2 linked regions of the Homo sapiens genome follow. The protein of the gene in region 2 purifies or fractionates together with the protein of the main gene of each other region. This does not show direct contact. Each region holds a gene or a part of one and is shown on either strand. Other genes may lie near its edges. The genes, in order: REEP5 and ZDHHC7.

Evidence for each region.
Region 1: the proteins of ZDHHC7 (region 2) and REEP5 purify together in Homo sapiens (affinity purification with mass spectrometry, with the first as the bait; one large-scale study listed by BioGRID). This does not show direct contact.

Annotation. Positions count from the first base shown.
Region 1 is NC_000005.10:112,901,492-112,905,515, reverse strand, and holds part of REEP5 (receptor expression-enhancing protein 5), read left to right. Parts: intron 1-2,997; coding exon 2,998-3,136; intron 3,137-4,024. UniProt on the Homo sapiens protein: Plays an essential role in heart function and development by regulating the organization and function of the sarcoplasmic reticulum in cardiomyocytes.
Region 2 is NC_000016.10:84,973,675-84,977,105, reverse strand, and holds the end of ZDHHC7 (palmitoyltransferase ZDHHC7), read left to right. Parts: coding exon 1-11; intron 12-586; coding exon 587-763; 3' UTR 764-2,931; downstream 2,932-3,431.

The sequences.
Region 1 (4,024 bases), on a different chromosome or scaffold from region 2:
AGGCTGGAGTGCAGTGGTGGAATCTCGGCTCACTGCAACCCCCGCCTCCCGGGTTCAAGTGAGTCTCCTGCCTCAGCCTCCCAAGCAGCTGGGATTACAGGCATGTGCCACCACGCCCGGCTAATTTTTGTATTTTTAGTAGAGGTGGGGTTTCACCATGTTGGCCAGGCTGGTCTTGAACTTCTGACCTCAGGTGATCTGCCCACCTCGGCCTCCCAAAGTGCTGGGACTACAGGTGTGAGCCATTGTGCCCGGCCAGAAACCTCAGTTTTAAGCTTTTTTCTTCTCTCACCATGACTACATGGGGCACTTCACTTTTTTGAACCTCACGTTCCTGAGTGAGCTAGACCATCTCTTCCCTTTTTTCTTGTTTTGGGTAGTTTGTGATTGTTATGACACATAAAGACATTTTTTAAATTGAACATTGTGCTATTTTAAATTAAAACAATTAAATGCTTCAATAATATGAGAAGATCTATTAAAAAATCTCTTTAGCTTAATAGACTCATTGGCCTTTTCCTGGCTTCTTTCATATGCCTTGGTTTTCTGCAAAGTTGTGATCAGTGTATGTATTCAATTTGGAGTTCTTTTATTTCTACTTTTCAATGTTACTATATAGTGTTCTAGTATATTAACATGGGGACTTTAGAATTCATATTGTAGATATGAATTAAAAAAGAATTTTTTTTTCCTAGAAGAGCTGAACTGTTAGGCTTCCTGTTTTTCAATCTGTGGAACTTGACTAACATTTAAAAAATAATGAAATAGAATGGAATTTAAAATATCAGAATGGTTTCAGGAAATATCTATTTAAGTTTATATTTTTATGTGAAGATGTCTGTTTACTGGATCATGATGTAAAATGTATGCTTACCGAGGGTTGTGGCCAAAAGAATTTAAAAGCCACTGGATTAACAATGACAGTCCCATCACATTTTGAGGTTTTTACGTCATATTCTAGAAAAGACTGTTTAATTCCCAGGTGTGTCCTGAGAGTTGCTTCTTTTGGAAGTACATAGTTGTGAGCTATTGCGTTCACAAAACTAAGACCTTGAGTGAAATGTAATTACGTATCTCCTCTGCCCAGAATGAATGTACAGGAAACAAATTTTTATTATACTAATAATTAAATAAATCCAATTAAATATGGATAAGCCATACTATACCAAATGAAACACAGCGGGAGAAGAAATCTTACACATAAAGGATATACTGTGTTCTTTGGTTAACATGCTTGTCTACACTTTTCCTTTGGCCTTCTATTACATTCGCCAGCTTCTATCTGAAGGAAGCTAAAAAAATACAGACTTTGTGCATACATTACAAGCCATTTTTTAATAATCAGCTCTCTTAAATTCATTTTATATGATTCTTGTACTTTGAAATATTTGGGGCTGGGTGTGGGAGCCACCAGACTGCACTTTGGGAGGCCAAGGCAGGAGGATTGCTTGAGGCCAGGAGTTCGAGACCAGCCTGGGCAACACAGTGAGACCTTGTCTCTACTAAAAATTTAGCAAGTAGCTAGGTGTGGTGGTGTGTACCTGTAGTACCAGCTACTTGGGAGGCTGAAGTGAAGGGAATTACATAAGCCCAGAAGTTTGAGGTTGCAGTGAGCTATTATTGTGCAACTGCACTCCAGCCTGTGCAGAGACCCTGTCTCAAAAAAATAAAAATTTTGCCTAGTCTTGAAGTTCAAAGCAACATTCACCTTATTACTTGTTCCTCTCTCTGTCTTCCTCATTAGTAATCATCTCATTGAGCTACAATTTTTCCCCTTTTGGTTATTTTCTAAAACTCACACACATAGCTGCTTCTAATTAACTGTACAAGGGCTTTCTTAGTGAGTGACTGAGCATGATTTAGCAGCCTGACTGTCTCTTTGGGGAGCTGATGTTATGGAGTAGCCAATGTATTTGCTTTTTGAAAATTTTTTATTTCAATAGGTTTTTGGGTAACAGGTGGCGTTTGGTTACATGGATAAGTTTTTAGTGGCAATTTCTGAGATTTCGGTGCACCCATCAACTGAGCAGGGTACACTGTACCCAATGTGTAGTCTTTTATCCCTCACTACCCCCAGCCCTTTCCCCAAAGTCCCCATAGTCCATTGTATCTTATGCCTTTGCATCCTCATAGCTTAGCTCCCTGTCAATGTATTTTCAGTAGTTAACCTGTTTCATAGGCTAAACAAGATTCAGAGTTCTTTTATTTTACTGTTTCAGTCCAGCTCAGTTACGATAAATATCTAGATCTGTTAGGATAAGAAATTGTGGAGCTTCAGGTTTAGAATAATGAGATTCCTAGGACTGAAGGAAATTTCTGTGATTTAGAAAATTATTTTAAATGTATTTCCATCCATTTGCAGAATGAATTTTGTTTAAGCAATAGTTAGGGTTGGGAAAGTCCTGTTATTAACTGAGGAGAGGAGGAAAGTCCATAGCCTGTGGATCAGTTAAAGACATTCTGAACTAAATAGACACCATGAGGTTTGTTTTCACCCGTTTACTATAAAATATGCTGTGGATTTTGGGCAGTACCTAACCTATGTTCCAAATGTTGCTTTATGGGAAATTCTTATTCACCCATGATATATCTCAATTATTAAAAGTACATAAGAACCTGGTTATCACGAGAGAATTCTTCCTGATATATCCCTCGTGGCAGGACCCAGCTTGGGAGTGGAAATTGCTCTAGCTCCCAGTCACTAGTGGTATATTCTAGGACTTGTGGGGAGGCTTTGGCAGGGTGGAGATCCAGGGCAGTAACAGCTGGTGCTGGTTTCTCTGGTGACCAGGAGACTAGAAACAAGTGGTTATAATGGCTTGTCCCGATATCCACATTGCTTCCAGTCTTTAAGCTGTACTCTTGCATCTAGTGACACAGTGCCTACATGTGCCTAAGTTTCTCAGTGGTATCAGAGGACAGGTTATGAAAGTGTATTTGAAAATCTTTCATTGATATCTTACCAAATGATATACTTTCTTTTGTACTGCCTTTCAGAATTAAAGCTATAGAGAGTCCCAACAAAGAAGATGATACCCAGTGGCTGACCTACTGGGTAGTGTATGGTGTGTTCAGCATTGCTGAATTCTTCTCTGATATCTTCCTGTCATGGTTCCCCTTCTACTACATGCTGAAGGTATGTTGGTCTTGCTACCACTAAAACTCCATCTCAGTACCTGTATAGAAGAAGTAGGAATAAATGCTTGAATGTTGTGCATCTGTGGCTCTGTCTCAGATTATAAACAAGAAGACAGGCCTGGGCAACAGAGCGAGACTCTGTCTCAAAAAAAACAAAAACAAAAAAATGCTCAAGCAAGCCACTTGCCTCAGCCTCCCGAGTAGCTGGGACCATAGGCGCACACCACTGCACCTGGCTACTCTTTTAAACAATTTTATCTAAAGAAATTTAGATATAGGAAATTAAATATAGGAAGCTCCATCACTCCAACCACCATCATAAATGGTAGTATCTTGAGTTTTAGTTCTGGTTAATTATGGATATATAATTCTTTTTGTCTTTGGTCTTAGCCTTTTTTTTTTTTTTTCTTTTTTTGAGATGGAGTCTTGCTCCGTCGCCCAGGCTAGAGTGCAGTGGCATGATCTTGGCTCACTGCAACCTCCACCCCCCAGGTTCAAGCAATTCTCCTGCCTCAGCCTCCTGAGTAGCAGGGATTACAGGCGCCCACCACCATGCTTGGCTAATTTTTGTATTTTTAGTAGAGACAGGGTTGGTTTTTTTAAAAATCTATTTATTTGTACTTCTTCTGGGAGATTTCTCAATCTGACCTCCTTTTTTTTTTTTCTGAGATGGACTCTTGGTCTGTTGCCCAGGCTAGAGTGCCATGGTACAATCTCCGCTCACTGCAACCTCCGCATCCTGGGTTCAAGTGATTGTCCTGCCTCAGCCTCCCGAGTAGCTGGGATTACAGGCATGTGCCACCACGCCTGGTCAATTTTTGTATTTTTTTTGGTAGAGAAAGAGTTTCACCATGTTGGCCAGGGTGCTCTCGAACTCCTGACCTTA
Region 2 (3,431 bases):
ACGACGAGACGGTAAGCTTTGTTCTCGGCTGTGTGGACTTCATATGTGGTCCAAGCTTGAGTAAATGAAAAGTCCTAATGTCAACAATAGGTGCCTGTGGACTGACTCGGGAACGTAATGGGACGGTCTTGATGAGCTGCAACCAGCTCCCTGTGTTTGCTGTTTCTTTCATTCTGGGCAGTGCATATTTCTAGTCTCAGTTTGATTTGCAAGTCAGCAGAGCCAGGCAGATTCCCAGCTCCCAGTGCAGTCAGTAAATTTCAGGGAACTGACTGCCTTTAGGGCCTGGCTCTGCAGGCCTGGAGTGGCGCTCAGTAAATGTCTGTACACAGTAACTAACGAGCGACAAATGTTGGTGCCTGGCTGGGAGGGCCATTGTGGTAGTCTGGGCTGGCCACGTGGCTGCAGCCGGGCTGGGCTCACAGAGGCCACGGGGTCTGGATCGGGGCAGAGCTGGGAAGGAGAGTTCACTCACCTACCCTCCATCGAGCCCACACTGTGCTTGAGCACGGTGTGATTCTGAGGCTTGGTGGGGTCTGCCGAGCTTCCTGGAGCCGCTGCCACTTGCTTTTCTTTCTGCTTCCAGGAGATCGAGCGATTGAAAAGTGAGAAGCCCACATGGGAGCGGAGGCTGCGATGGGAAGGGATGAAGTCCGTCTTTGGGGGGCCCCCCTCACTCCTCTGGATGAATCCCTTTGTGGGCTTCCGATTTAGGCGACTGCCCACGAGACCCAGAAAAGGTGGCCCGGAGTTCTCAGTGTGAGGCGTGGCTCATCAGACTGAAACTTGCTCACAGACTTCCAGTTATTTATTTGGGGTCTGAAGGATATCAACAGCTCATCTGTGACCAACAGGGCAACTGGAACCTACACAAACCAATTGCTTGCAGCAAGCAGAGTTTTATATATTTATAGTCACAGATGGCAGAGGAAGAGGCTCTCAGTCCCCACCTGTACAACAACGGAAAGGTGTGTGGCCACACGAAGAAGCCAAACGCCGTGGCCTCCTGCAGAGCTGGGGCTTCTGTGGAGAATACTTCGGGTTATTACATGGGTTATTCAAATCCTGGGTCCTGAGCTGCTGTTTCCAATCATGAAGAAAAACAGTGAATCCAGTGAACAGGGATTCTCCAAGCAGTCATTTCAGGGGGCTCCTGCTGACCCCGCCACTCAGCAGTGCACTCCCCGGATCACAGCAGGGCGTTTACATAGAAAGACGTTTTGGTCTCGATTAGCTCCGATGCTTTGCACTGAAGTTGCAAAAGATCTGTGCACTGAACAGTGAAGGTGGCTTCCGGCACACTCCCCGCTGCCCCGGAAGAGACATCCTTTGACCCTCTCAGCAAGTCTGTGTGTGTGCGTGTCTGTGCGTGTGCGCGCGTGTGTGCATGTGTGTCAAAATTGCCAGTGTTGTTTAGGCAATGTAACATTTACCGGCTGTGTACAGCAAACAAGCTATTTTTTAGAAACCGACGTTTCAGGGAAGAGGGGAGAGAGCCGCGGGGTCCTGCCCGTGGTTACTATGAATGTATTGCTGTTGGAGGACATCTCGATCCAAAGAACAGCCGTTCCTGTGCGGCCCTTCGTTGCCCTCCTGCTTTCATTTTTTAAAGAAATCTTGAGTGCTTGAGGGCCTTGGAACTGATTTTTTTTTTTTGTTCCAGCCAAATTAGCAGTGTATAAATGGCACCTAGGTAAGAGCAGAGCTGCGGCTCGGTGACTTGATACTTGGGGCAGCCCGATGCTGTGTGTGGGGCAGGGGAGGCATCCTTACTGGAGAGGCAGGGCCCAGCCATTGGGCACCTCTGGGAAGGGGAGGGGACCATGAGGCAGCCAGCCCCTGGCAGGGGCGACTGTGCCACCGCAGGCAGCGCTCCAGTCGGGAATGGCCAGGATGGCGCCCTCTTGTTGGAGTTTTTGGTTAGCTTTTACGTTTTCTTCTCCACCCACGGCACAGGTGATAAAATAGGATCCTTGGTGCGGAGCTTAAAATTATGCCAGAAAGCCAACAGCTCCCCTCGTGGGGCCTTGCCTTAAACTTGCCTGGTTTGTACATTTTTTGCCGGACGCATCAAGAAGCAATCTGTGACAAAGTCTGAGGGTCTTCCTTTATGCTTGCCCTCCACACTAAGAGAAGTTGGCGTCTCCCTCCTGGGAATTGTTTTGCCTTTCTGTTCATCTGTGAACTGTTTTTTGTTTTTAATTACTCTGTACCCCATCCGAATCAGGGCTTCTACCACTGCTGATGCAAAACCACAAAGGGACCTACCTGAGCCACCGTCCTAGCCAAGCGAGCAAACCTGCAGGGGGTTTGGAAGTGGACTTGGTCACCGCAGAAGCGTGTGCGCCGTTGGGGGAAGAGCTGCGTCACAGCCAGAGGGACAAAGTGTGGGTGATCCTGGAGACGCCAGTTTCCGAGATTGTTCTGCATATTCATTTGCACATTGTTGTCTGGGTTGGACATGCGTGTGGGCTTCAGTGTGAGGCTTTTAATATGTATATCCTGTTATCAATAAAACAATTATCCAAGTGGTTGAATCCTGTGAGACTTGGCAAGTGTGTGCAAATCAAGTATACTTGACTTTTCAACCTCTTCTTTCAATGTAACTTTTATATGAAATAAAGTAATCAATTAACAGTTCTCAAATGGCTTCCAAAGCGCCCGTTCTTCCTGGATGGTGGTGTTTTCAGGGGGTGCCTTTCCGTGCTTCGTGGGCCCAGCCCCAGGCTGTTAAGGTCACTCCCAAACAGTTTCCAGAAACTCTAAATGCTTTTGTGCCCATGACAAGTGACCTGGGCACTCAAGCGCGACTCACAAATGTTGCCCAGTGAGTACTGTTGCTTGTTGAATGTTTAATTCGACTCCCATCGTTTTACTTAGTCCTTTTTTTAGTGCACGTTGAAATAAAAACAATGTTTCAAAATCTCCACAGTTCAGAATCTCAAGTACCTACAATTTGATTTTAATTCATTCAACAAATTTGTCTAACATTTGCACTGAGGGAACCAAAATGCCCACTTACCTTCCAGAGGCCAGATGGTCAGTGTGTGCCGCAGCCCTGCCTCGCTTACCTTTCAGAGGCCAGATGGTCAGTGTGTGCCGCAGCCCTGCCTCGCACGTGCTGTGCCTTGGGGCTCCTGGTGGCATTCCAGACACGCGGAAATGAGAAGGAGACTCGAACACGGAGGCGCACACCTGAGCCGGGCGGCTGCATGGGCAGCAGCCCTCCAGCTTGTGTTTGTGGCTCTGCCGAATTTTGCTGCAATATTATTTGTATTCCTTATATTAGATTGTTATGTAGGCTCATTGTATAGAAGGATGACGCTTGCATTAAAACAAAACAAAAATATCCTCCAAATAGGAAGGTGGCTAAATCCTATCTTCTATTGTACATGAACTTGGCTTGGGTATGGAAGCAGGGGAAAATAGCT